4 linked regions of the Homo sapiens genome follow. The protein of the gene in region 3 purifies or fractionates together with the protein of the main gene of each other region. This does not show direct contact. Each region holds a gene or a part of one and is shown on either strand. Other genes may lie near its edges.

Region 1 (5,097 bases), on a different chromosome or scaffold from region 3:
ATCAGAGGACAAGGGGCTCACACATCCAACAGCCAGAGGATGGGCTGCTCGCACACTAATGATTAGAGGACGGGAACTCACACACCCAATGACCAGAGGAGGGAGGGCTCACATACCCAATGACCAGAGTATAGGGGACTCACACACCTAATGACCAGAGGACGGGGGACTCACACACCCAATGACCAGAGGACGGGGGACTCACACATCCAATGGCCAGAGGATGGGCTGCTCACACACTAATGATCAGAGGACGGGAACTCACATACCCAGTGACCAGAGGACAGAGGACTTACACACCCAATGACCAGAGGATGGGGGACTCACACATCCAATGACCAGAGGATAGGGGAGCTCACACACCCAATGGCCAGTTTCTGGTCATATGCCACATCCAACCTGAGCAGGTAGCAGAGAGGGAGGAGTCCGGAAGGGCTGCCAGCAGTCCCGCAGAACACCCATGGAAGGCCAGAGCAGTCAGGGAACCCAGGGCACTGTGGAGATAGGATGGACAGGGGAGCTTAAAGGGGCTAGCTTTGGTCCATCTGCGTACAGTGTGGCCTTGCAGAGAGAGACAATAGTCCCTCCCCTACAATCCTTCATTGTTCCTGAGGCCTCATTCTAAGAGAAAGAATCAAGAAAATATACATCTGCAGTGGAGCTGAGCTTCAGAACTGGAAGGAAGCTTAAGTTTACAAGCCCTCTCTATAAATTCCATCCTCGGAACGTTTCTGTTCTGACCTAGTTCAGCCACCTGGATCTCCTGCCTCCAATCAGAACACATTCTGCCTTCACCTTCTAATCCATGAGCATGTCCCTCTGGGTCAAAACTCCCCAGTGGATCCCCACTGCCTGCAGGGAGGTCCTCCAGGGCCTGACCCTACTGACTCCCCCAGGCTCAACCCCTTCTCCCCCACTATTTCTCCACCCGCACCAGAATCCCACCACCCTGAACCACACCCGATTCCCCAGAAACCCCAAGCCTTTCACTGCCTGGGCATGGTCAGGCCCTCTGCCCTCAGTGCCTCCCCTTCTTTGCTGGTGAGTTCCTGCTCACTATGCAAAACCTCCTCCAGAAAGCCTTCCCTGACTCCTCCAAGCACATCACGCCCATAGCCTTGCTTGTGTATGTAATACTAATCTTAATACTGGCTGAGATTTGTTGCCTGCTTATTGTGGGCCAAGTACTACCGACCTCACACATCTGAAGGCATATAACCCCAATGCTGCAAAGCCTCTGCCCTTATACTCCACCCTGGCTGAGCTCCTTACAGGAAGTAACGGAGCTGTGAAGATGAGGTACTCTTCCCCTGAGCAGGTTTGGTGGCCCCAGAGGAGCAGGCATGGTGAGTCTGTCCCACTTTTTGCCAGCCTGTCTCTGAGCAGGGATGGGGAGCTGGGGAAAACACTGGCCAGGGAGTCAAAGGGTCCTTCCATCTGTGTAAAAGCCTTCACCTGGCAGACCTTCGCTTTCTTTATAAAATGGGATGAGCAGCTCTTCCTGCCAGATCACGAGGATGTAGACCCCACAGTTCACAATACAGAAATGATCAATGATTCTCAAAATCTCGCACCCTACTTCTGCAATGAGGGAGGAGATGGAGATTGCTGTTACTATTTCATTAACAAAATTACCTATCACCTGAGCTTTTATCATGTGAGCCTTAATCACATGCCATGTATAGATGTACTTGATCTTCCTGGAACCCCAACAAGGTAATGATCAACTTCCTGCACAGGTGAGGAAAATGAGCACAGGTGGTGCCATTGCACACCAACACCATCCATTCAGCAGAGGGGTGGGCTGAGGTGGAAGCCCAGGATGCAGGAGGACCAATATGGTGATGGGGTGGGGGTGGGAGCTGGGGCTGGGGCCGGGTCTCTAAGCCCTCCTAGGTCTGCTGGGGACACCATATACCCCTCTTGGCTCTGTCCTTTCCCTGCCCTCCCAGCTTACCCCTCCCACCAGGCTGTGGAAAGGGGTGCCCCTGGGCTAGGAGCACCTGGGAGGTGTCACCTGCCCTGTCGTCCTAATCATGGTTCCTCTCTGTGTGGAAGACACACCTCCTGGAAGCAGAAGTGCAGGATAGCCCCATCCTTGTTGCTTGGCAACCAGAGCCAAGCACATCTTCAGAAGAAGGGAGCCAGCATGCCCCTCCCCCACATTGTGCCCCCAGGGAGGGTTGCACTCAGGTGTAGGGGGCCAGGAATGCCTCCCAGGAGAGGAGGTGGTAGGCTGGAGAAGATCCTGCATGTGGGACCCAGGACAGTTCTGGGGGCAACAGTCGCAGAGCCCCTGATCCCCCATCTCACTCCTGCAGCCCCTCTCACCAGCAGCATGCTTGTCTCCAGGCTGGGAGTGTTATTGGCTTGGCCTCATACTCAGAGCTGGCACTGAATTGCAGAACCAGAGTTAGAGCTCCACTGGCCCAAGGGGTCACCCAGCCCAGTAGCCTTGAGGGGATACACGGAGAAAGCCAGAGATGGGCTGGGGCTTATCCAACATACAGCCAGCCAGTGACAGACCGGGAATAGAATCAGGGTCTTCAGGGCCCTGGTATCTCCAAGCCAGAAGGGAGGATGTGGCCAGGAAAGGGTTACCCCAGAGTAGGTGGGAACCAGCCATTTAGTTTAATTGGTTCTTCCCTGGTTAGTAATTAGTTCTCAGCTAGAACCATGGCAGTGGGCTGAGGGCTGACTTGGGAGGGATTTAGCTGCCCCCATAGGCTCTATCAACTCCCTTCAAAGCACCACAAATGGAAGAACAGGGTGCCTGCTGTGCAAGACCAGCTCCAGCAGCTCCCACACGGAGACCCTGCTTCCCTCCTCCCTGCTCAGGGCCCCGCAGGTTCCTCTTTAGCAAAGAGCTTGGCACAAACACTCCCCACGAGTCATGCACAGCAGACCTCGTGTCCAGAAGACCTCAGTGTTCTTCTGTCTCCTCCGCTCCAGTCCTAGGCCAGAAGCTGCCTTTGAGGCAAGAGGTCTGATAGTCCACTGTGTTTCTCACAGTGACCTGGGTCTGAATTCTAATTCTGCCACACTCACAGTGAGTCCTTGGGCAGGGCCAGCTCTCTCTGAGCCTCTGCCTCCTGACCCACAAAACAGGGATGATCCCACATCCGTCACAGGGTGGCTGGGAAGATAAAAAGTGCCCTGTGTGGAGCCTCCGGCATAGTGGATGTTCAATAAATGCCACGTGAGTGAACTCATGTGAGGAAGGACACAGGCTGCCATTCTTTTTATGCATTTCCTGGAAGTAACCTTTGCTTTGAAAGCTCTATTCTGCCCTCAGGGGTGAGGTAACATCTGCCTCCTCAGGACTTGGGCCTGTCCCTTAGGTATGTCAGCCCCTTGGGACAGGTGATGGCTGGCCCAGAGCATGTGATCTGGTCACCTGGGCTCCCTCTGGCCTTGTTACCAAGAGATCAGAATAAATAAGTTTTTCTACAAAAAATAAATCACTTTATTAAAATGCTAAATTATGTATATCAGTCAATATTTTTTAAAAAGATCTTACTTTGTTTAGGGCAAAAGTTATGAAAATAATGAAAACAATTTTGAAATCTCAAGCCCCAAGATATGGTAAAGAACATCCTAGGAGTCCTTAAGAGTTGTGAGTCTTCATCTTTTCCTTCCCTTGTTCTAGGAAACAAAGACTGGACTGGCATTCCAAGTTCCCAGGGGCTTCCAGTCCCCAGGCCCTGCTTGGAGCCCCATTTCCTGGCAGCCTGTCTTTCCACCCTAACAAAAGCTGTCCATTTCAGGGCGTGTCTGGTACTTCTCCCTGGCAACCTCCACCAGAGCTCCCTCGGCTTCTCTTCCCTGTGGTGAGAAATGGAAAAGAATGGCAGACGCAGAGAAAATGCCCATCAGCTTTCCCGGTAGTCCACCCTGAATGTTTATGAATTCTGCTGTTCTACCTAGCCTTCTGTCACCTTCCCCAGTGGTTCTGTCCAATAATTTCCCAAAGTTAACCACACTGAAACCAGACAGCCCTACACATTCAATGGCCGATGCATTCGGCAACAATGGACGACTTGGGTGGGGAGGACAGGGGAAATCTGCAGCCTGGATGGGATACAAATGTTACCACCCTTGGGCCTGGCCCCGGCCAGTCTGCAAAGTTTGCAATGTCGGGGCAACATCTATAAAGATAGTCATAGACTGATTTTAGGGATAGAATAAGGAACAAAAGGACAATAAGGTTATTTTGTTATATATATATATATATATATATATATATATATATATATATATATATATATATATATTTATTTTGGGATGGAGTTTTGCTCTGTTGCCCAGGGTGGAGTGCAGTGGTGCCATCTCGGCTCACTGAAACCTCCGCCTCCCGGGTTCAAGCGATTCTCCTGCCTCAGGTTCCCAAGTAGCTGGGATTATAGGCATGCGCCACCATGCCTGGCTAATGTTTGTACTTCTTAGTAGAGACAGGATTTTGCCACGTTGGCCAGGCTGGTCTCGAACTCCTGACCTCAAGTGATCTACCCACCTTGCCACCTTGGTCTCCCAAAGTGCTGGGATTACAGGCGTAAGCCACCACGCCCAGCCTTATTTTGTTATAATTTAATGTGATTCATTATAATCTGGGGGCTGCAAATGATAATGATCATCAGATCATGCAAAAGACAGTAATTATTATTACATCTACGCAGCCAGAACATATTCTAAGTTTCTTTTTTCTTTGCTGGCAAGTTCTCTTGCTATGCATCATCAGATTAAAGGTGCCACCTTCCTCTTATACCAAGTACAGGTTAATTCTCATCCTGGTGTCTGTCTGACTCTCTCACTCACACACATCTGTTTAAACAAATAAAAAAGCAAAGGTTCTGGGCCTGTACCCAACCTCCACAAAGGTGCCCCTTCTTATGCCAGCCACTGAGGAAAGGAGAAAAATTGGGAGGAGAGAAATCAAGAGAAGGAAGCTAAGGCTCAGGGCAACAGGGTGATTTCTTCCAGATGTCAAAGTGAGCTCTGGCAAGCTGAGGTCTGGTGTGTCCCTTTCCACCTCTGGTGGCCTGGTTGTTCTCATGTATTTCTTCAGAGACTAGGAATGAGGAAGTGCCCCCCAAGAAC
Region 2 (5,097 bases), on a different chromosome or scaffold from region 3:
TAACAACAGATAAAGGGCAAATCTCTCCTCATTCTTTTATCCCTAGCTTCCTTAACTGTCTGATTTCTTTTCTTTTCAGCATGCAAGAATTAAAGTCATTCACGTGTGGATTTTTTTTTTTTTTACTAATAAATGAAAAACAAAGTGGGATTCTGCAAGTCATAAGATAGTAATTCTATAAGCCACACCTGTTGGAATCGGATGTCAAGGTCAAAGGTGACAGGTTCTCTGGGGTTGCAGGTGACTGGCAGGCGGTATTCCTGATGTGATGGGGCAGTGCATGGCACCAGCTTCACAGTATAGGTCCCTGAGTAGTCACGTACCTTTGAGGAGAAGATATTGATATATTACATTTAAAAATCTGAGGTGTAATCAGATGGCAGCAGCAGAAGAAAATTAATTAAGAGTCTTAGTCACTTACGGCAAAGTCAGAGACAAAGCTCCACTGCTGTACTGGCTGGTTATAGGTTGGTTCACTCCTTATGAGGCGGAGGGAAAATGTCAGGCCTGGATGATCAGCTGACATGATCACTGAGCTTGTAAAGGATGCTAGGAAAGTGCCAGTAATTATAATAATGATATAGTGGTTCAATTAAAAGAGTGCATAACAGTTTAGAGTTTTCAAAATAAATGATCATACATTATTTGCTTCTGTTTTTATAAGAAGGCTGCAAAGCAGTCATGGTTAGTATAATTATCCTCCTCTGGCAGATGAAGAAACTGGGCTGTGAGTGACTGTGTGACTTTCCAAAGATCACACAGCTAGGATGTGACTTTCTGATTCCTACTTCAGTACTGTTTCTGCTCTATAGTTTTGTCAAAAGATAATTGTACAGAAATGCTCAAATTGTTCAGAGCTACTTTCTGGGGAGTCACAGCAGCACAATAAAGGGTGATGTGAATGCATTTATTGTGCACTGAAGTTACGAGCTGAACTTAAAATAGTCTATTAGTATCCACACAGCTGGGCAAACCCAATTTATGAATGGAGTCTGATTTTAGTTAGATTGCCTGCAATCATGGCTACACAAAGATTCAGTTTATTAGAAAGGTAGGCATGTAGAAGAAAACTGTATAGACCAGAAAATCCTCATTTTCCAGAACTGTCAAATACAATAAAGCAAAATGATTTTTTTGGGTTCTTTCTTTCTTGTAGCTCAGTTCCATAAAAATACAATGAAGCCTCTTTCTCTTCCTAATTATTCAGCCCTATTCTCTTTTGTTAGAGTTCAAGTCCAGAAAAAGAAAAGCTATAAAGATGTTGAGTGAACTATTTTCCCTTTCCCAATCTAATATAAGCTGGCAGAAAAATGGCTTATTTTTTATTTGACTCTCCATGTTACTAAACTGGTAATATGGAGAGTCAAATAAAAAATAAGCTCTTTCTAGTGAAATGTCCTTGTTAAAAAAAAACAAAAAACAAATGAAGTTAGACGTGGGATTTTATCGACTGCTGCCTTGTTGATATTCAAAGCACAGCGAATCACAGTTAGTAAAATTGCATAGCCAATACTTATTAAACATAATTAACATGTCCAAAACTTAAATATGAAAGTGAAGTACCTCCTCTGACCCTATTAAAAGGGTTTCTCACAGTACCTAGCAAAAAGCTGTGAAAAGAGAAGTGCTTGCTGAATGAATCATCTGCAATTCGATTTGTACAATGGAAGCAAAGCAGAGAAAGAAATGATTATTCCTATGCTCTTTAAGGAAAACTTTACTTAAAATGAACTCAATAGGGTTTCCTTTTAATTTTACTCTAATTATTTTGCATTTTCTCTGAAAGTCTGCATAATGATAATTTTGTGGATTATGAGGTGAAGCTGAACAATTATCAAGCTCTCATGGAGATAATCCCACATGTACAATTCATTTGAGATTAAGGGCTTCAGTGGTAACAGAGAAGCACGCTGAAATGTGTGAAGATGGAAAATCTACCTCCTTTTTGTGTGAGGAGTGGTTGTTAAAAGATAACGGGGCTTACCGGGATGTGACAGCACAAATAAGCCATGGAACTGAGCCTCTGTCTTGAAGTGCACGGCCAAGCGCCCCTCATCACCGATGCGCATGCTGGTTGGATAGAGAGAACCTATAATGGGGAGAGTACCAAGAATGAAAATATATGTAGCCAGAGACCCCTTATGTACAGATTCCTTCCAAAAATTAATTCAGGTTTGACTTGTCTTTAAACATTCTGGGCAAAGGGTATTATCAGAAGAATTCTGAATAACAGAGGCAGAAGTATCTTCATTTTCTTTTCTAAGCAGAAAAGGGAGCCAAAATGAATTATTAAGTAACATGAGTGAAGTCACTATGAAATACACAGATTACTTACAATAGACCAAGTTTTTTTAAAATCTGAGTTTATAAAAATGAAGCTGTAAATTGAGAGGCATGACAAAATTGTCAAAATGATGGAGATTCGGACATGTAAATAGAAATAGGTTTGAGTTATCCAGAATTATTCCTAATTTTATAGACTTAAAGAAACCTCTGAAGCTTTCCCAAGAAATTTAGCAGTTTGATAAAATTTGGCTCCAGAAATCAGATGGAAACAAGAGATCCTATGTGGAGGTTGGGAACCACAGAAAAATCCTCATTAAGATTAACTTAAATATACATCTTCTAAAACAAGACACGGACTTAAAACATTTGAAATAATTTGGAATCATAACTCAGGGTTATCATATTACCTGTCACATAGCTCTAAAATAGAAACTATTCAAAATGAAACATGGAGAAAAAAAGACAACAACAAAATGAACAGAGCATAAATAGGTTTTAATCCACTTAAGAGAGTAGATTTACATTTGAGGTGCACTATTAACTCTGTTTTCCTGCTGGCTAGTAAAATGCAGTACTGGCATGACACTATGGATGTTTGTGGAATCGGAACAGTAATACATGTCTGAAAAAGAAAAAGCACTCGTCCTACTAATGGATTAGATTGATGCTTGTGGACTTTGAACTATGAGTCTAACATGGAGATTGAAACCAAGTTTTGCAAATGCTCGCGAACTCGAACTAGTGGCATTCACAATCCGAGTTCGCAGACATTCAACTAAAGTACCCCAGAGTAATAGAATTTTACATCAGAAAGAGATATTAGAAGTTGTGTCTATCATTCAGAAAAAGTTAAGTCCCAGAAAGGTTAAGCAATATGCTTGAGATCTCACAGCTAGTTAGTTGTAGAGTCATGACTAGAATTCAGGCCATAATTTGTATTTAATTTAAATGCACCTCTTTTTTTCAGAAATAAAAATGTGTAACTTTTTCCCTTGGTCATTTCTTGCTTTCGTTGGAGCTTCCTCTATCCATTTTCTAGAATTCAGAAAAATATATATGTTGTGTTATGTAACACATAAATAATTAATCACCTAAAATAGATCGCAAGGATAAAATATCCATGAAATATATAAAGTCATATTTAATAATCACATATTGCACAAAATTTAAAGCCCTAATATGGTTTAAAGAGTTTTTTGATGAAAAAGGTGAAATTATCTTATTATAGATAGAAAATGAAAATATACTGAAATTTGCTAGTACTACTTTTAGCAATGGCAAAAAAAAATCGTCTTAAATAGTTTAAATAGGTTACAAAACTATAGAATTTTCCAAGTCTTCTGAACTCACCTTGAAGTTCAGCCTCTGGGGGGCTGCCAATTCCATCATTCCACAAGATGGCGGTGTCGTACACAAAAGTTAGACGAAGCTCTGACTTCAAGTCAAAATGCTGCCAGCCTCCTACCCCCACGGGGGAATGGAACACGTAGGAAACATACAGAGGGACTCGAAGGGTCACATAGGACTGCACTAGGTTTAGGACCTAAAACAACAAAATTACATCAATCAACATGACTCAGTGTTAACTAAGTGGGCCTAATTTTGTACAAGCCATTTTCTCTTTTCGCTTAACTGAAGATTTTGAGTAATCATTGAGAAGAGGAAATGACAGCATTTTATAACACTATTTTCCCCTCACTTAATTTTGGATCGATTAAATAGTTGTTACTAATTACCTTCATTGGCAACAAAGGATATGTACCAGAAATCCTTAAGACAGTGCATTATTTTGAGCATACTATACTTACAAAATCCTCTTTAGAGCAGTTTTATGAAGATAGTTTACATACCATGTAATTCACCTATTTAAAGTAAACAGTTCAATGGTTCTTAGTATATTTAAGGAGCTGTGCAACCAACACAATCAATTTTAGAAGATTTTCATCACCTCCAAAAGGAAGCCTGTACTTATTAGCAGTCACCCCCAATCCCTCCTCCCCGTCAGTCCCTGGAAACCACTAGGTCTTTATGTATTTGTCTATCCTGGACATTTCATATAAATGGAATCATACAAAATGTGTTTTTTTGTGATAGATTTCTTTCATTTAGCATAATGTTTTCAAGGTGCATCCATGTTTGAGCACGTTTCAATACTTAATTCCCCTGTTAATGAATTGCAGCCCATTGTATGCACATATTACATTTCATTTATCTATTTATCACTTCATGGCCATTTGGGTTGTTTCCAGTTTTTGGCTATTATAAAAAATGCTGCTATGAGCTACTTTTTTATTAAGGGAATATGAAACATAGATCTGGAAGCAAATATATTTACTAATAACATATAACATTTATAATATCTCAAGAATAATTAGTTGAAATGAAGTGTCTTGCCTTGAATTTTATACTTTCCTCCTTCTGGTGTTTAGCAGATGGGTTGGGAATAGTGGAGGATAAACTAATATTTATATATTGAGTACTTACCATATTTCAGAAACTGTACTAGTTTCTGAATAAACACTATTTAATATTTTCACTCTCCACCATAATTATTTTGCATGTATGGATGGATAGTTGGATGGTCAATGGATGACGGATAGAAAGAGACAAAGATAAAATTAAGACTCAAAGGAAAAAGGTAAATGTCCCACAGTATTCTCTAAACCTCCTGAATGGCTCGGACAAGATCAGAACTCAGCTTTTGGCCCATGTTTTTTTTCTATTCTGTCTTACTTCATCGTATTCCAAACAAAGATGAAGGCAGTCCTAAGGTCATCTAACAAAGGCTATCATATTTCATTCTCAAAATAG
Region 3 (5,097 bases):
GACATTTGCATGAATTCCTATGCATAAGTTATGCATAAAACCTCAGACAGGCAACACAGAGCCCATCTGTCTACATTTCCTCATGAACATCCATTACATGTGTAAATACCTTTTTTTTTTTTTTTTTTTGAGATAGAATCTTGCTCTGTCACCCAGGCTGGAGTGCAATGGTGCAATCTCGGCTCATTGCAACCTCCGCCTCCCAGGTTCAAGCCATTCTCCTGCCTCAGCCTCCCCAATAGCTGGGATTACAGGCGTGTGCCACCATGGCTGGCTAATTTTTGTATTTTTAGTAGAGGTGGGGTTTCACCATGTTAGTCAGGCTGGTCTCGAACTCCTGACCTCGTGATTCACCCGCCTCAGCCCCCCAAAGTTCTGGGATTACAGCCGTGAGCCACCATGCCCAGCCCACACTTTTTTTTTTTTTTTAATTGAGACGGAGTCTCGCTTGGTCACCCAGGCTGGAGTACAGTGGCCCGATCTCAGCTCACTGCAACCTCCACTTCCTGGGTTCAAGTGATCCCCTCACCTCAGCCTCACAGGTCCCTGGGACTACAGGGACACGCCACCACTCCCAGCTAATTTTTGTATTTTTAGTACACACGGGGTTTTACCATGTTGGCCAGGCTGGTCTCAAACTGGCCTCAAGTCATCTCCCCACCTTGGCCTCCTAAAGTGCTGGGATTAGCAGGCCACTTTGAATATTTAAATAAGCTTCAGAACACACTCAAAAGTGAGTGGAAAGCCAGGACATTGTCCTTTAACAACAATAATAAGATATTCACACATGTGACCAGATGCAGTGGCTCACACCTATAATCTCAGCACTTTGGGAGGCCAAGGCAGGCAAATCACTTGAGGTCAGGAGTTTGAGACCAGCCTAGCCAACATGGCAAAACCTGTCTCTACTAAAAACACAAAAATTAGCTGGGCCTGGTGGTACATGCCTGTAATCACAGCTATTCTACTCGGGAGGTTGATGCAGGAGAATCACTTAAACCCGGGAGGCGGAGACTGCAGTGAGCCAAGATCCCACCACTGCACTCCAGCCTGGGCGACAGAGTGAGACTCTGTCTCAAATAAATAAATAAATATCTTAGTGTGAATATCTGATTATATGTAAGAAGAATGGACTGCACGTGGTGTTTCAAGCCTGTAATCCTAGGACTTTGGGAGGCCGAGGCAGGTGGATCACAAGGTCAGGAGTTTGAGACCAGCCTGGCCAGCATGGTGAAACCCCATCTCTACTAAAAATACAAAAATTAGCTGGGCATCGTGGCATGCGCCTGTAGTCCCAGCTACTCAGGAGGCTGAGGCAGGAGAATTGCTTGAACCCAAGAGGCAGAAGTTTCCGTGAGCCAAGATCACTGCACTCCAGCCTGGGTGACAGCAAGACTCCGTCTCAAAAAAAAAAAAAGAATGGTTGTGGGTTGGTTATTCTACGGTGATGCATTATGGAAAGAAATTGAGAGCAGCTAATCTTTTTTGTAGGACCCGATATTTGTGGATTTGATATCAAGAAAGTTCATGTTATTTTACATTTCAAGAATAAGTATCACGAAAACAAGAAACTGATCAGGTGTAAGGTAACTGCTCTTGTATTCAAATAAATGAGTGTTAACTCCTGCCAGACTAAGTTTAGAAAAAATAGTTTTGATAATAAAATACTTAACTGAGCCAGGGATGGGTCTTTGTAGACATACCTCCTGTTTCCAGTTTCCAGTTTAGGGGGCCCATTGGAGATACTTCTCTCCTTTAACTGGTTTCCTGAAGTTTTTACCCCATCAGGAGGGCACTCTCATTTTTTACTGTGAGCTATGACATGTCATCATTTGCCCTATGAGGGTTACAATAGTACAGTCACATTTCAGCCACATCCATCCTCATTAATGAATGAAATATTCAGGATGAAAAAAACATTCTGGAGAAATGTCTGGGTGCAGTGGCTCACACCTGTAATCCCAGCAGTTTGGGAAGCTGAGGCAGGAGGACTGCTTGAGCCAAGGAGTTCAAGACCAGCCTGGGCAACATGGCGAAATCTTGTCATGACAAAAAATACAAAAATTAGCCAGGTGTAGTGCCAGGAACCTGTGGTCCCAGCTACTGGGGAGGCTGAGGTGGGAGGGTCACTTGAGCCTGGGAGGTCAAGGTTGTAGTGAGCTCTGATTGCACCACTGCACTCCAGCCTGGGTGACAGAGCAAGACCCTGTCTCAAAAAAATAAAAATAAAAATAAACTGCATATTTAGACTTGCATTAAAACATCGAGAGTTGGCCGGGCGTGGTGGCTCATGCCTGTAATCCCAGCACTTTGGGAGGCTGAGGCAGGTGGATCACCTGAGGTCAGGAGTTCGAGACCAGCCTGGTCAACATGGTGAAACTCTGTCTCTACTAGACACAAAAAATTACCCAGGCATGGTGGCAGGTGCCTGTAATCCCAGCTTCTCAGGAGGCTGAGGCAGTAGAATCGCTTGAACTCAGGAGGTGGAGGTTGTAGTGAGCCGAGATTGTGCCACAGCGCTCCAACCTGGGCGACAGAGTGAGACTCCATCTCAAAAAAAAAAAAAAAAAGAAAAGAAAAGAAAAAAGAAATTGAGGATTTAATTGTTACGCTTTTCCCCCTAAAATATGCAGGTTGATGGCTTCACACACCTGTACACTCTAATTTTAAGACCAGATCTTTCTTATGATGTGAAAATTGATGGTCAGTCAATTGAATCCGGCAGCATAGAGTACGACTGGAACTTAACATCACTCAAGAAGGAAACGTCCCCGGCAGAATCGAAGGATTGGGAACAGACTAAAGACAACAAAGCCCAGGTGTGAATTTTTCCTGGGCAACTCTAAAAAGTGCACAAATGTAGTTTGTAAGTACCCAGTTACTGGACAATTGCTGCATGGCTGGTAGCCACGATGGCAATATTATAGAACCAAATGCCCTCCCCAGAGCACACACTGCAGACCAGCCACATCTCTACACATCTGAAGGTATCGTAAAACATTTATTTATTTACTTATTTATTTATTTTTTGAGACAGAGTTTCGTTCTTCTTGCCCAGGCTGGAGTGCAGTGGCGTGATCTCAGCTCACGGCAACCTCCGCCTCCCAGGTTCAAGTGATTCTCCTGCCTCAGCCTCCCGAATACCTGGGATTACAGGCACCCGCCACCATCCCTGGCTAATTTTTGTATTTTTAGTAGAGATGGGGTTTCACCATGTTGGCCAGGCTAGTCTCGAACTCCCGACCTCAAGTGATTTGCCTGCCTTGGCCTCCCAAAGTGCTGGGATTACAGGTGTGAGCCACCACATCTGGCCATCACCATCACTTTTTGCACCATCATTTTTCACTCTAGCCACTACTTGAGGTTTCCACACCGCTGCTCCTCTCCATAGCATGCAGGAAAGGGCTAAAGTCATATGGCAGGTTAGGGAGAAAAATCTAGGCAGTGTGGTGTTGCCCTGAAGTCCTCAGTGGGATTGGAAGCACCAAGCACTTGGCCTCCTGACCACCAAACTGAAGAAGGGAGAGGGACACTGGGACAGGGGTCACCAGCCTGTGCCTGCCACTTGGCATCTAATAATTTCCTTTCTCAAATCTGAGCATCTGGCTGGGTGTGGTGGCTAATGCCTGTAATACCAGCACTTCCAGAGGTCAAGGCAGGAGGATCGCTTGAACCCAGGAGTTCGAGACCAGCCTGGGCAACAGAGGGAGACCCTGACTGTACAAAACATAAAAATAGTAGCCAGGTATGATGGCGGGCGCCTGTAGTCCGAGCTACTTGGGAGGCTGAGGCAGGAGGATCACTGGAGCCCAAGAGGTTGAGGCTGCAGTGAGCCATGATTGCACAACCGCACTCCAGCCTGGGTGAGAGCAAAACCTAGTCTCAAGAAACAAAAACAGAAGCAACAACAACAAATATATGAGCATCTGACTGATTTTACTTTTTCCTTACATGTCTTTGAAGGACTGGGAGAAGCATTTTCTGGACGCCAGCACCAGCAAGCAGAGCGACTGGAACGGTGACCTGGATGGGGACTGGCCAGCGCCGATGCTCCAGAAGCCCCCGTACCAGGTGTGTGGCCTCTTTGTATGATGCCAGGGATGCCCCAGGGCTGCCCCTCCGCTGCCCATGTCATTGAGACCACCCCATATGGTTTTTTTGATACAGGATGGCCTGAAACCAGAAGGTATTCATAAAGACGTCTGGCTCCACCGTAAGATGAAGAATACCGACTATTTGACGCAGTATGACCTCTCAGAATTTGAGAACATTGGTGCCATTGGCCTGGAGCTTTGGCAGGTCATTTGGTTTTAACTTTACTTTAGATTTTTTGCGTGTGTGTGTTTTGTTTTGTTTTGTTTTGTTTTGTTGAGACAGGGTCTCATTCTGTCACCTAGGCTGGAGTGCAGTGGCACCATCCTAGCTCACTGTAGCCTCAAACTAGGCCCAAGCGATCCTCCCACCTCAGCCTCCCAAGTAGCTAGGACTACAGGCACAAGCCACCACATCCAGATTTTTTTTTTTTAAGAAATGGGAGTCTAGGCTGTGCGCGGTGGCTCACTCCTGTAATCCCAGCACTTTGGGAGGCTGAGGCGGGTGGATCACAAGGTCAGGAGATCGAGACCATCCTGGCTAACATGGTGAAACCCCGTCTCTACTAAAAATACAAAAAAAATTAGCCGGGCGTGGTGGCGGGCGCCTGTAGTCCCAGCTACTCGGGACGCTGAGGCAGGAGAATGGCGTGAACCCGGGAGGCAGAGCTTGCAGTGAGCTGAGATCGGGCCACTGCACTCCAGTCTGGGTGACAGAGCAAGACTCCGTCTCAAAAAAAAAAAAAAAAAAAAGAGATGGGAGTCTCAGAACTTCTAGGCTCAAGCAGTCCTTCCACCTCAGCCTTCCAAAGTGCTGAGAGTTTTGTTTGTTTTTTTGTTTTAATGCTTTGGTGATCCCAGCTGGGCTCAGTGGCTCATGCCTGTAATCCCAGCACTTTGGGAGGCTGAGGGGGGCAGATTGCCTGAGCTCAGGCGTTTGAGAGCAGCCTGGGCAACATAGTGAAACTTCGTCTCTACTAAAAATACAAAAATTAGCTGGGTGTGG
Region 4 (5,097 bases), on a different chromosome or scaffold from region 3:
GGCTAAGGCTGTGATATTCTTGCAAAGGCATATTTGCAAGGTGTATTTATTTATTTCAAATGAATGAAATGGTTACTTAAGTATATGTGTCATTATCCTGAAAGAAAGTATTATTCAGGAAGTATTAAAATATAATAAAGTAGAGGTTCAGAGGATCCAGCAATAAAATTAGGTAATAAAAATTAGTTACGTTAGTTGTCCTATTCCCAGCCTGATTTGGTCTCCACTCACTGTAGTCACGCTGATCTTCTTTTTAAACTCATTAATTTCTTTCCTGCCTCTGGGCTTTCAATGCTTCCCTGACACACCTTGGTTGGCTAACTCCTACTGAAATTCAGGTGTCAACTCAAACAGACACTGAATAAATGTTAGCTTTTTAAAAGCACTATCTTTTGGCCAGGCACAGTGGCTCACGCCTGTAATCCTAGCACTTTGGGAGGCCGAGGGGGGCGGATCACAAGGTCAGGAGTTCAAGACCAGCCTGACCAACATGGTGAAAACTGGTCTCTATTAAAAATACAAAAATTAGTCGGGCATGGTGGTGCGTGCCTGTAATCCCAGCTACTCAGGAGGCTGAGGCAGGAGAATCACTTGAACCTGGGAGATTGAGGTTGCAGTGAGCTGAGATCGTGCCATTGCACTCCAGCCTGGGCGACAAAGTGAGACTCTGTCTCAAAAAAAAAAAAAAAAAAAGTACTATCTTTTTTCAAAAACGTAATGTAAAATATAACAGTATCATAAAAAATTCTTATGTTCTTTATAATGTTTACTCTAGGAAATATTACAGAGATTCATTAAGTAATTTTTGATTGATCTGGCAACTAAAAAACCTAAAGCAGAATCTACCTGTGTATCATAGAAGTAGCCAGCTGGAAAGAGCGGTCTAATTGAACGATCTGCCAAAAGAAAAAAAAACACATTAAACCGTACTGACAGAGTTGCTTTACAGTTCAAAACGTTTGAACTAATATAGATAGCCATTCAATATGTTTTCAAGAAAAATCCCCTTGGACTGATTTACTAAGAGGGACACAGATAAATGTCAGTGCTTCCATTATTACATACCATGCCCTAACAACAAAAAACAAACACAGAAGAAGCACATTAACAATAAAGATTGGGGAGCAATTTTTCATTCTGGTTCCACAGGCAACAGTTACATATATAAGCAGAGCAAAGAGACTTAAGACCAATAGCAGACCAAAAGAAAATGCTTCCTTGCTACTTTGTGTCTGAAGACTGTATATAAATATACATAAAATAGCAATTTCTGGCCGAGCACAGTGGTTCACGCCTGCAATCCCAGCACTTGGGAGGCTGAGGCGGGTGGATCACGAGGTCAGGAGTTCAAGACCAGCCTGACCAAAATGGAGAAACCCCATCTTGACTAAAAATACAAAAATCAGCCAGGCATGGTGGTGGGCACCTGTAATCCCAATCACTTGAACCCGGGAGGTAGAGGTTGCAGTGAGCCGAGATCGTGCCACTGCACTCCAGCCTGGGTGACAGAGCAAGACTCTGTCTCAAAAAAAAGCAATTTCTGGGTAGAAGAGCTATAAATTACATATGATCCCACAATATGTAGGGATGTTAAAGATTTGAAAGATTATGGACATATTTCAGTAGCTGATGAACATAATGTTTAGGAATTACTATTCTGAACATGAAAAAATGTACTAGGAATAGATTCAACAAAGTAGAGGCATGGGCCAAAAAATTCATATGCTCAATAGAGATTTACTCATTTAGTCAACAAATATTTATTGAATGCCTATTCTGTGCTAAGCAGTATAACAGGTACTAGGGATTCAACCCTGAAGAAATAAAAGTTTTTTCTTTCACAGTGCCCACATTTGAGTGAGGGAAGAGAAGGAGTGAATAATCTTAGGTGGTGTTAATGCTATGAAGGAAAACTTAAGACTTATTGTAGAACACAGATGCAAGAGAAGAGATGCTAACATAGGCATACCAGAGAAGATGAACGCCTCTATGTTAATATCTTACCTATTATTCGACTTGTTAGAATTTCTTTATCAGAAGTACCAATCTCTCTTCTCAGATAGTTTGTGGGAATTCTACCTGCTGCAGCAGCTTTTTGTCTGTAGTCAACCTGAAGCAGCAATAAAAAAAAGTTCATATAATTCTTTTTGCAGAAACAAACTATACTGTATGAATGCTAATTCTCCTGAGGTTGCTAACAACACAGTCTAGACTCAGAGTAGAAAATGTTATTTACTTAGCATTTTGTATCTTTTGGGGAGAGGAAAGTTGATAGAAATGTTTCTGCAAAGTGATTTTAAAAAACGTTCAGGTGCAGTGGCTCACGCCTGTAATCCCAGCACTTTGGGAGGCCAAAGCAGGAGGACCACTTGAGGCCAGGGTTTTAGAACTGCCTGGGTAACACAGAAAGACCTTGTCTCTACCCCCAACAAAAAAAAAATTAGTTGGGCACAATGGCCTGTGCCCATAGTCCTAGCTACTCAGAAGGCTGAGGTGGGAGGATTGCTTAAGCCCAGGAGTTTGAGGCTGCAGTGAACTATGATCACACCACTGAACAACTCTAGCCTGGGTGACAGAGCAAGACCCTGTCTCTTAAAAAAAAAAAAGTCTTCTACTCAACAGTAAAAGTGGAAGAAGACTCACTATTTGCCACAGATGCTCATTCTGATCAAGTCAAACATTGCTTTTTTTTGGTATCAACTCTGTTAAATATAATTGTACACCCCTTTTCATAATAGAAGGGAGCTATAAAATTCTCATGAGCTCATTACTAAATATACACAGTTGTCTCTTGGTATCCCTGGGGGATTGGTTCTAGGACCTCTTGCAGATATCAAAATCCATGGATGCTCAAATCCTTGATGTAAAACACCATAGTATTTGTTTATAACTTACGTATATCCTCTCATATACTTTAAATCATCTCTAGATTACATATAATCCTTAATACAATGTAAATTCTACATAAATAGTTTTTATACCGTATTGCGTAGGGAATGACAAGAAAAAAAGTCTGTACATATTCAGTACAGATGCAATTTTTCCCCCAATATTTTCGATCCATGGTTGGTTGAATCCATGGATGCAAAACCCAAGGACATGGAGGGCTGACTGTACTTGCAGAGTCATACTGAAGGGAAACTATGAGGGCAATGAATTCATTGCTTATTCAATGTCAAAGTACTCATGCACTTCCAATCTTCTTGTCAACTTACGCACCTGGACGTTCCAAATTCTAAAGTATGCTTAATCCTAGTATTTGTTTATGAAGCAGTTTATACTCTTTTAATGAATCAGTATCAAAAAACTAGGAAAAATTCTTTGTTGTGCAAGTTTGTATTTTCCACTCACTAGACACTGGACAAAAATATTATACATTCTACACTTTACTCAGACCATATTACAGTTCAGATAAATCAGCAAATACTTACCACCAAAGGCATAAACTGGGAAGGGGAAGGTTTTGTTTTACTGACCGCTGTGACCATTACTGCAGTGTCACCTGACTTAAACATAAAGAACAACGCTGGTAAGTTCCTTTGAAATCAGATATTAGCATCTAAGTAGCAACTGAATAAATCCTTACTCCAATTAAACTCAAGAAAAGATATCTAATTCTACGACACGATTATGAAATAAAAAATATTCACAAGTAGTCCAATCTTGATCTCTGAGCTTTTCAAAAGCTATGGAATCAAAATAAGGAAAGATTAACAGGTAATTTAGTCATATTCAATGAATTGAATAGTATTCTCTACTTCTTATGTGGCTATACATAAGGAAAAATTCCCCAATTATTACTATAGAAGAAAATACCAAAATCACTTTCTCTAGAAAAGCACAACAGAATTTATTAACGCATAAAACAGAAGCCCAAGTTTGGAAAGGATGTTAAACGTCACTTAATACGGCTGGGCACGGTCGCTCACACTTGTAATTGCAGCACTTTGCGGGGGCAAGGCAGGTGGATCACGAGGTCAAGAGATTGAGACCAGGCCAGGCGCGGTGGCTCACGTCTGTAATCCCAGCACTTTGGGAGGCTGAGGCAGGCGGATCACGAGGTCAGGAGATCAACACCATCCTGGCTAACACGGTGAAACCTCGACTCTACTAAAAATACAAAAAATTAGCTGGGCGTGGTGGCAGGTGCCTGTGGTCCCAGCTACTAAGGAGGCTGAGGCAGGAGAATGGCGTGAACCTGGGAGGCGGAGGTTGCAGTGAACCGAGATCGCGCCGCTGCACTCCAGCCTGGGCAACAGAGTGAGACTCCATCTCAAAAAAAAAAAAAAAAAAGAGATCGAGACCATCCTGGCCAACATGGTGAAACCCCGTCTCTACTAAAAATACAAAAATTAGCTGGGTGTGGTGGTGCACGCCTGTAGTCCCAGCTACTCGGGAGGCTGAGGCAAAAGAATCGCTTGAACCCAGGAGGCAGAGGTTGCAGTGTGCCAAAATCGCACCACTGCACTCCGGCCTGGAGATGGAGCAAGAGTCCACCTCAAAAAAAAAAATAGGTCACTTAATACATGCAGTGCTCTGGACTCTGGTTGTCTGGAATGATTCTTGCAGTAGAAATTATCTTAGTAGTATCTGAATTAATTTCCAGTACCAAAATTCTAAGTAGTTACACGATGTTGTAGTTACACATTTAGTATGAGTCTCCGTAACCATTTTTAAGATGAATTTTAAAAATCTGGACTTTTTACCTGTACTACAGCAGAGCCATCTGCAAATCTGGCCAGCTTTCCAGAAGATATTTCTAATTTCCTGTTTAAAAATAAAAATGCAATACAAGAAGACTTAGGTCATCTGTACAATTCCTGCTTAGTATAAAATAATAAAAGATTCTAAGGGAAGATTCTAACCCCCAACCCACCCACTCCACCAACAAAAAGGGGCAGAATCCATGATCATTATCAAAAGTAAAAGTGGAATTTAAGAGTGGCTTAAAGAAGAATACGGAAACCAAGGCACAGGATTGATCTGAACAGGAAAGTCTTTTGGAGGTTCAGAAGTTAACTGCTTCCCTAAATGTTAATTCCCATGTACCATCTATTTTTTTTTTGAGGTGGGGGGTGGTCTTTGTGCCTTGTATCT

What was found.
Region 1: the proteins of CALR3 (region 3) and RAB6B purify together in Homo sapiens (affinity purification with mass spectrometry; one large-scale study listed by BioGRID and IntAct). This does not show direct contact.
Region 2: the proteins of CALR3 (region 3) and FREM2 purify together in Homo sapiens (affinity purification with mass spectrometry, with the first as the bait; one large-scale study listed by BioGRID). This does not show direct contact.
Region 4: the proteins of CALR3 (region 3) and PNPT1 purify together in Homo sapiens (affinity purification with mass spectrometry; one large-scale study listed by BioGRID and IntAct). This does not show direct contact.

Annotation. Positions count from the first base shown.
Region 1 is NC_000003.12:133,885,172-133,890,268, forward strand, and holds part of RAB6B (ras-related protein Rab-6B), read right to left. Parts: intron 495-5,097; exon of another isoform or gene 395-494; coding exon of another isoform or gene 364-394; intron 1-363. UniProt on the Homo sapiens protein: The small GTPases Rab are key regulators of intracellular membrane trafficking, from the formation of transport vesicles to their fusion with membranes. Rabs cycle between active GTP-bound and inactive GDP-bound states.
Region 2 is NC_000013.11:38,871,474-38,876,570, reverse strand, and holds part of FREM2 (FRAS1-related extracellular matrix protein 2 precursor), read right to left. Parts: intron 3,830-5,097; coding exon 3,637-3,829; intron 2,090-3,636; coding exon 1,985-2,089; intron 550-1,984; coding exon 422-549; intron 324-421; coding exon 189-323; intron 1-188. UniProt on the Homo sapiens protein: Extracellular matrix protein required for maintenance of the integrity of the skin epithelium and for maintenance of renal epithelia. Required for epidermal adhesion. Involved in the development of eyelids and the anterior segment of the eyeballs.
Region 3 is NC_000019.10:16,481,652-16,486,748, reverse strand, and holds part of CALR3 (calreticulin-3 precursor), read left to right. Parts: intron 1-1,491; coding exon 1,492-1,586; intron 1,587-2,633; coding exon 2,634-2,819; intron 2,820-3,963; coding exon 3,964-4,071; intron 4,072-4,167; coding exon 4,168-4,299; intron 4,300-5,097. UniProt on the Homo sapiens protein: During spermatogenesis, may act as a lectin-independent chaperone for specific client proteins such as ADAM3. Required for sperm fertility. CALR3 capacity for calcium-binding may be absent or much lower than that of CALR.
Region 4 is NC_000002.12:55,682,939-55,688,035, forward strand, and holds part of PNPT1 (polyribonucleotide nucleotidyltransferase 1, mitochondrial precursor), read right to left. Parts: intron 4,768-5,097; coding exon 4,707-4,767; intron 3,507-4,706; coding exon 3,432-3,506; intron 2,111-3,431; coding exon 2,005-2,110; intron 897-2,004; coding exon 847-896; intron 1-846. UniProt on the Homo sapiens protein: RNA-binding protein implicated in numerous RNA metabolic processes. Catalyzes the phosphorolysis of single-stranded polyribonucleotides processively in the 3'-to-5' direction. Mitochondrial intermembrane factor with RNA-processing exoribonulease activity.